2 linked regions of the Homo sapiens genome follow. The protein of the gene in region 1 interacts with the protein of each later gene in a pairwise test. Each region holds a gene or a part of one and is shown on either strand. Other genes may lie near its edges.

The links.
Region 2: the proteins of BLMH (region 1) and LRP1 interact in binary tests that used the Homo sapiens proteins (3 or more experiments, as listed by UniProt).

Annotation. Positions count from the first base shown.
Region 1 is NC_000017.11:30,281,867-30,285,513, forward strand, and holds part of BLMH (bleomycin hydrolase), read right to left. Parts: intron 3,615-3,647; coding exon 3,522-3,614; intron 1-3,521. UniProt on the Homo sapiens protein: The normal physiological role of BLM hydrolase is unknown, but it catalyzes the inactivation of the antitumor drug BLM (a glycopeptide) by hydrolyzing the carboxamide bond of its B-aminoalaninamide moiety thus protecting normal and malignant cells from BLM toxicity.
Region 2 is NC_000012.12:57,131,483-57,135,129, reverse strand, and holds part of LRP1 (prolow-density lipoprotein receptor-related protein 1 preproprotein), read right to left. Parts: intron 1-3,647. UniProt on the Homo sapiens protein: Endocytic receptor involved in endocytosis and in phagocytosis of apoptotic cells. Required for early embryonic development. Involved in cellular lipid homeostasis.

The DNA.
Region 1 (3,647 bases):
TAAAATAAAAATACAGATAACTAGGTTCTATTCCAGGGAAACTGACTTTGTGAGTCTGGGACAAGTTAGGCCTATCCTATATATTGTTTTCAATAGCTGACAGCCACTGCTATAGAATTTCCTAAGTCAATCATAAAGGCTTCTTTTCCCTTTTTGTGGCACTGACAAATATTGGTTTTGGTCTTTGATTGACTGATCGATTGATTTTAGAAATGAGGTCTCACTAGGTTGCCCAGGTAGCACTTGAACTCCTGGGTTTCTGGACTCAAGTGATCTGCCTTAGCCTCCCAAGTAGCTGGCACTACAAGTGTTACCACCATGCCTGGCTATGTTTTGCTTTTTAACAGACAAGGTTTTTTTTTTTTTTTTTTTTTTGAGACAGAGCCTTGCTCTGTCACCCAGGCTGGACTGCAGTGGCACAATTTTGGTCTCCACCACCTGCAGGGTTCCGGTGATTCTTGTGTCTCAGCTGCCCAAGCAGCTGGCATTATAGGCATGCACCACTATGCCCAGATGTTTTTTTCGTATTTTAGTAGAGACGGGGTTTTGCCATGTTGGCCAGGCTGGTCTTGAACTCCTGGCCTCAAGTGATCCATCTGCCTTGACCTCCCAAAGTGCTGGGATTATAGGCATGAGCCACTGCGCCCAACTGAGAATACATTAATAATCTTAAGGGGATCCGCAGGCTAAAAAAATGGACACTGAGATAACATTGCAATAGAGGTAACTACACATCTCCAAAACAGATCTGCCTTGCCTGTCATCTCAACAAGCAGCCTGCGTCTCACTTCTCAGTAAGAATGCCTTTAGCATAAACACATTTTATTCAAAGCTATCTGAGCTTCACGGCTGTTGATTAAGCCATCATTTTGACTTGCCTACAAGGTTACACAAATCATAGGTACTAATTTGGGGCTTTAAAACTGCAGCTAGACTCTTCATTACCAAAGAGTCAGGTTCAATGAAAAGAAGTCATTTGGGGGATTGTAAAAATTTTAAAACCTTATACACAGGGCCAGGTATGGCGGCTCACACTTTATAATATGCACAATCTTTGGGAGGCTAAGGTGGGAGGACTGCTTGAGCCCAGGTGGTGGAGATCGGCCTGGGAAATATAGTGAGACTGAATCTCTACACAATTTTTTTAATAAATGAGCTGGGCATGGTGGCATGCACCTGTAGTCCCAGCTACTTGGGTGGCTGAAGCAGCATTTGAGCCCAGGAGTTGAAAGTTACAGTAAGCTATGACTGCGCCTCTGCACTCCAGCTTGGGCAACAAAGCAAGACTCTGTCTCTAAGGGGGAAAAAACCCTTACACACAGAATTCTGTAGTAAATAGTTTAGGTAGAATCATTAAGTAAATAATCCTATAAAACATTCATACTCAGGATTTGGTAAAGTTGGATCTACTATTTCTCTGAGGCAGGAGTAGGGGAGGAAAAAAATATGTGAAACATATCTGCCCTAATTCTTACCAGCCAATTACCACGCTCTACCAATGATGAGGACATCAATCTTAGACACATCATTAGTTCAAAGATCATTAAAGCAAACATCAAAAGCCAAAAGGATGCTTATTATCTACAGCAAGTATTATCTGGGCCCTTTTCCACAACTGTTTGCAGAACCTTCATTCCTACTATACCTCCATCTTTTTTTTTTTTTTTTTTTTTGGAGACGGAGTCTCACTCTGTCACCAGGCTGGAGTACAGTGGCACAATCTCGGCTCACTGCAAGCTCTGCCTCCTGGGTTCAAGTGATTCCCCTGCCTCAGCCTCCCGAGTAGCTGGGACTACAGGCGCATACCACCACGCCCAGCTAATTATTTGTATTTTAGTAGAGACGGGGTTTCACCATGTTGGTCAGGATGGTCTTGATCTCCTGACCTTATGATCCGCCCACCTTGGCCTCCCAAAGTGCTGAGACTGCAGGCATGAGCCACCGTGCCTGGCCCCCACCATCTTAATCTAACCCTAAATAAAGGCAAATTATGTAGCAGATATAGCCTCTGCAAGACAGTCATTCCAAGCAAGAAGGGAAGAAGTAACATTTACAGAACTCCTGCTACGTGCCAGGCACTATGCCTTGCATGCTTACATTTAATCCTTGATTCCCCAAAAATCCAATAAGGAAAATATTTCAGATCCTGACTGAATCTCAGACAGGTTAAGTAACTTACCTAGGATCACAGACTGTTAAGTAAAAGAGTCAGAATTTAAACCCATGTATGTCTGACTCCAAAGCCTATTTTTTCCTACTATACTAAGATGCCTCTCTTCTGTAAGAATTTAAGAGATAAAAATGAGATTATTTAAATGCATTTGGTAAATGAAATTTCTGCATTCGTCCACTCAACAAATACTTAAGAAACAGCTATTGTGCCAAGCACTAGGCTAGACATGTTAAATATGAACTGAGCCTTTAGAGCTTAAGGAACTTGTCCCAGGATATAAAGTAATGAGAAGACTAGAGCTCAGATAGCCTGACTTCAGAGATTACACACTCCACTGCTCCACTATGCTGCATCTCTAAGATTTAAAGGAAAACACAAGTGAAGCATTAGTGTTTTCCATCGCAGTGAAAAAAAGTAGGCCATTTTAACTCCATACAGTCTTGAAAGGAAGCCTAATAAAGGGCCTACTGGCTGACAAACGGAAACATTTATTCTTTCCTCAAACCAATTGCAGTTTTATGCATATTCATTCTGGACATGGATAGTATTAATAATAAAGTTTCTTAACTGTCTTGATCATAAATAATATTACCACCTCATATTTTAGTGCTTTTTACATTTTCTAAAATGTTTTTACATACATTAACAAATATAACCATCAATAGCTCCGTCTTTATTTCTACAGAAAGAAGCCAAATGTTCTGGCATCGATCCAACATCCCTTACATCTCTGCCTTTCTAGCTTAATTTGCTACCCATCATACTGAAAAAAGTTATGTTTCAGCCACATGATTCCCTGAAGGTTCTATCTTTGTTTATGGCACTGTTCATACAATTCCTTTTGCCTAGAATGGTCTTGTTATCTACCTGGTAAATTCTGACTACTCTTTCAAGAGCTATCTTCCCTATGAAAGCTTCAGCTCACTGAGCTAGTCACTCCCTCCTCTATGACCACCAAATCAGTTTTTACACATCTAGCATAGGATTTATCATCATTATAGATGTGTTTTCTTTTTCCCAAGAGACTGAGCTCTTTAAGAGCAGTGACTATGTCTTTCTCATCTGTTTCCTCAGTGCCAAACTCATAGAAGGTATTTAATATTTATGAAATGATAAAAGAATGATTATACAGACCACTAAACTACGAATTAGAAAATCCAAGTCCAAGTCCTACACTAAAAGGCAAAGTAAGTTTTAAGCTCAGTTTTTTCAGTGTAAAATAAGTAATTTTCAATTCAATTAAACATTCGTTGCCATGACTAAAGCTTCCTAATCATTACTTTAACAGATGGGAATATTCTGAGAGTTCCTTAGAGGGGTCACAAAAAAATCCAAATTTTGTTATTACCTCCTCCATCATGACGTCCTGTGTGGCCGAGATTTCTCCTTTGGTTGCTCCACTGTGTACCAGGTTCCGCAGTCGTATACAGAATTCTCTCATCTATGACAGAAACTTATTCAGCACTCCAACAGT
Region 2 (3,647 bases), on another chromosome or scaffold:
GTGAGGTGGGTGCCCTTGCGGCCCCCCTCTCACACATGGGGGAGCTGAGGCACAGGGTGACTGGTAACTGAGCAGGTGGTTTCCTCATAGGTCATGGGATGCAGCCGGGTTAAGAAAGGAAACCAGGCCGGGCATGGTGGCTCATGCCTGTAATCCCAGTACTTTGGGAGGCCGAAGCAGGCAGATCATGATGTCAGGAGATCGAGACCATCCTGGCTAACGCGGTGAAACCCCGTCTCTACTAAAAATATGAAAAATTAGCTGGGCGTGGTGGCAGGCGCCTGTAGTCCCAGCTACTCAGGAGGCTGAGGCAGGAGAATGGCGTGAACCAGGGGAGGCGGAGCTTGCAGTGAACTGAGATCGCGCCACTGCACTCCAGCCTGGGCAACAGAGCGAGATTCCATCTCAAAAGAAAAAAAAAAGAAAGAAAGAAAGGAAACCAGATGGGCGCAGTGGCTCCCGTCTGTAGTACCAGCACTTTGGGAGGTGGAGGCGGAGATGGGCGGATCACTTGAGGTCAAGAGTTTGAGACCAGCCTGGGCAACATGGTGAAACCCTGTCTCTACTAAAAATACAAAAATTAGCAGGAGGCGGAGGTCGCAGTGAGCAGAGATCACGCCATTGCATTTCAGTCTGGGTGATGGAGTGAGACTGTGTCTCAAAAACAAAACAAAACAAAAACAAAAAACAAGGAAGGGAAATTGCAGGGAGAACGCTGTCGTTCTCTGGCCCTGGCAGTGGGGAGAGGATTTTAAGGGGTGGCCTTCAGGGCTCCTCAGAGAGGAGGGAAGGGCATAGGGGAGACAGAGAGGAGCAAGAATGGGACAGAAGAAGGGGAAGACAGGCAGGAGAAGAAGAAGGAGAGATCTAGAGAGGAAGGAGAGAGAGCGAGTTTGGAGGAAGAACACCAGGACACAGGGGCCGTCTGTTCTCGGCTTTGCCTGAAGATGAATGTGACTGCCATGCTAACTTGGCCAACACCCTGCCCCACCCCCCCAAACCCAGGCACCCAGCCCAGCCACGGTCCCCAGGGCCACCAAGCTGGAGCCAGGGCAGGAGGTGTAGAGTTGGGTGTGCGTCCAGACACAACACAGACCCCACTGCCCTGCTTGACCCTTGGCTGTCATTCTGTGTCCCATTCTGGGACCTTGGGGGTGGGGAAGTGGGGTGAGAATGCCTGGCCAGAGAGGGTGACAGCGAAGTCCAACCCTGAAGGAGTCTTCTCCAGAGGAGGGGAACCCATCCTTTGATACCCCCTTGAGGGAGCGAGAGCAAGGAAGAGAGCTAAGACCTTAGAGGTGCTTCTTAAAGGACAAGGAGACTCAGGGACTGCAAAAGCATGACAGGGACTCTTGGGGCCCTTTTTAAGAGTGGACACAGCAGAAGGAGAGATAGGCTCCCCTCTGAGCTAGGTGAGAGGGGGGTTCTCTAAAGGGAACCACATGATATAGCTAAGGGAACAGAGTGGGAGGAGGATGCTCAAGGTGCGGGGGGTGGGGTGGGGGGGCGGCGCGGGGACAGAGCCTGCAGGAATCTGAATTTTCGACCTTATGGGGGTGGGGCAGCAAGGGCCTCCCAAACCCAAACCGAGAGGTTTTCACTGAATTTTTTGTATTTTGGGTGTTGCCCAGTGGCTCTTTCCTGAGGCTCAGACACATTTTTGTCATTCCTGAGTCTGGGCCTCTGCTTTGCGGCCTGGACAGACAGACAGACAGGGTGGCTTGGACAGCCAGGGGAGGGGAAGGGTCTCCGCTTCCATTCTGAGTCAATATTGATGCAGCAGGACATTAGCCTGACCCGTGACCTCCCCCACCAGCTTTTCCTTTCCCCACAAATAAAAGCCAGACCCCCAGAAGGCCTCCAGAGGTCACCATATCACTCACCAGGCATTTCTAAGCCTCCTCTCCTTCTCCCCCCACCCCAGCCACACACACAGCTTATGCTCACCAGAGTAAAAGCTCCAAGTTCTTGACTCACTCCTTACATCTTTCTCCAGTTCTTAGGCTCCTGGTCAGGAGGAAGTTCTGCCAGAAGTCTAACCTCCCTCCTTCCTTCTGAAATACCTCCTTTCTCCCTCTTAGCCCACAAAGGGTATCAAGTTCCTTTCTTCCAGAAACATTCTCTCCAAAACCCATTCCCCAAATTAGTGGAGGGGGAAGAAGAAAGAGGAAGTCGGAGGAAAGTGGAGAGGAAACTTTTGGTGCTGAACTGGACACTGGGTCTGGCCAGGAAGGGGGAAAAATAGCCAAAACAGAGGGGAGGGAGCCAGGGGGTGAGTGGGAAAGCCCAGAGAGACTCTTGCTCCCAAGAAGCTTTTGGGATACCAAGAGGCCTGGATGGGGGTAAATGGAGACAGGCAGAGAAAAATAAGACAAGTGACAGAGACGCAGAAAGCAGGGCAGAGAATGTCACAAAGGTTCGGCAGTAAGAGATGAACTGAGAGGGTGAGAGACAGAGAGGTTCTAAAAAGCCAAGACAGCGCACACTAATGACAGACAGACAGAAAGACAGACAGACAGCCAGAAAAGCCAGGAAGGGGGCTCAGTCCAGAGATTGCCAAGGGGATGACACAGTTGTCCTGGGATGAACCCAGAGAATGACTACCCCGCTGAGCCTAGAGTAGGGTGGGAGCAAGATCTGTCCTATCTTGGAGAGACAGAGTCTCGGCCCTAGGCAGTGCCTGACTCAAGGGAGACCCAGAATAGGGACCACTACCACCCCTGGAGTCAGGAGGGTAGAAAGGAGGGAGGAAAATGGAGCTCTTCAGCCAGGGAAGCTAAGGCCTGGTGGGAGAGGGAGAGGCTTTCATCTCCCCTAGGGGAGCAAGAGGGACAACTCTCCACATATACCCCTCACCTCTTTCCCAGGGAGGGTTTATATTGGTGCCTGAGGCCATTGCACCGGAAACACTCCAAAGCCAACTGCTTCCTTCTCCAAACAATGCAGGATCCTGCTAACCAGGCTGAAATCTGGGACAGAAGAGGGAGGCAGGTTCTCTATCGCTCATACCCAGCACTACCAAGTCAGGGGCCTTCCTGCAGTACCATTCAGCTGCACCCAGATGCCCCAAGAGCAATGAGCCCACACGCAGAGCTGGAGGACCTGAAAGGTAAAGAGTCTGAGGAGTGAGGAGGACCCTGAGAAGAGAGTACTGGGCGGGAATAAACCTAGGCTTGGGGGTTCTGATGTGCAAGGGCTCACACTGCAGCAGGAGGAAAGAGAGATAGACTTGAGTAAGGAAGGGCTTCCCAAAAGGTAAGGAAGGGGTTTTGAAGAATGGGGGCATCTGGACAGGAACTGACTCTGGCCAGGACCTGGGCTGTCATCCTTTGGGAGGCTCAGTGGTGGAAGGGTGGTTGAGAAAATGAAGAGAGGAGAGAGAACAAGATCAGAAGAAAAAGATGTCTAGTGAAGCAGCCCTAAACATCAAAATATCCCTCCAACCCCAAAATGAATTTCTTACACATTCTTGCTTTAAAAGACAACGAGGCAAAGGGAGACGTTTAGGATGTGAGTCTGATCAGGGAGAAAGGAGTTTAGAACTTTCTCTCAGGGATCCAGGAAGCTAACACCCCAGCTTCATAACTCACTTCCACTGTACCTACTCTAGTAACTGGTAATATGCCGGCTCAAGGGGGTGTGTGGAG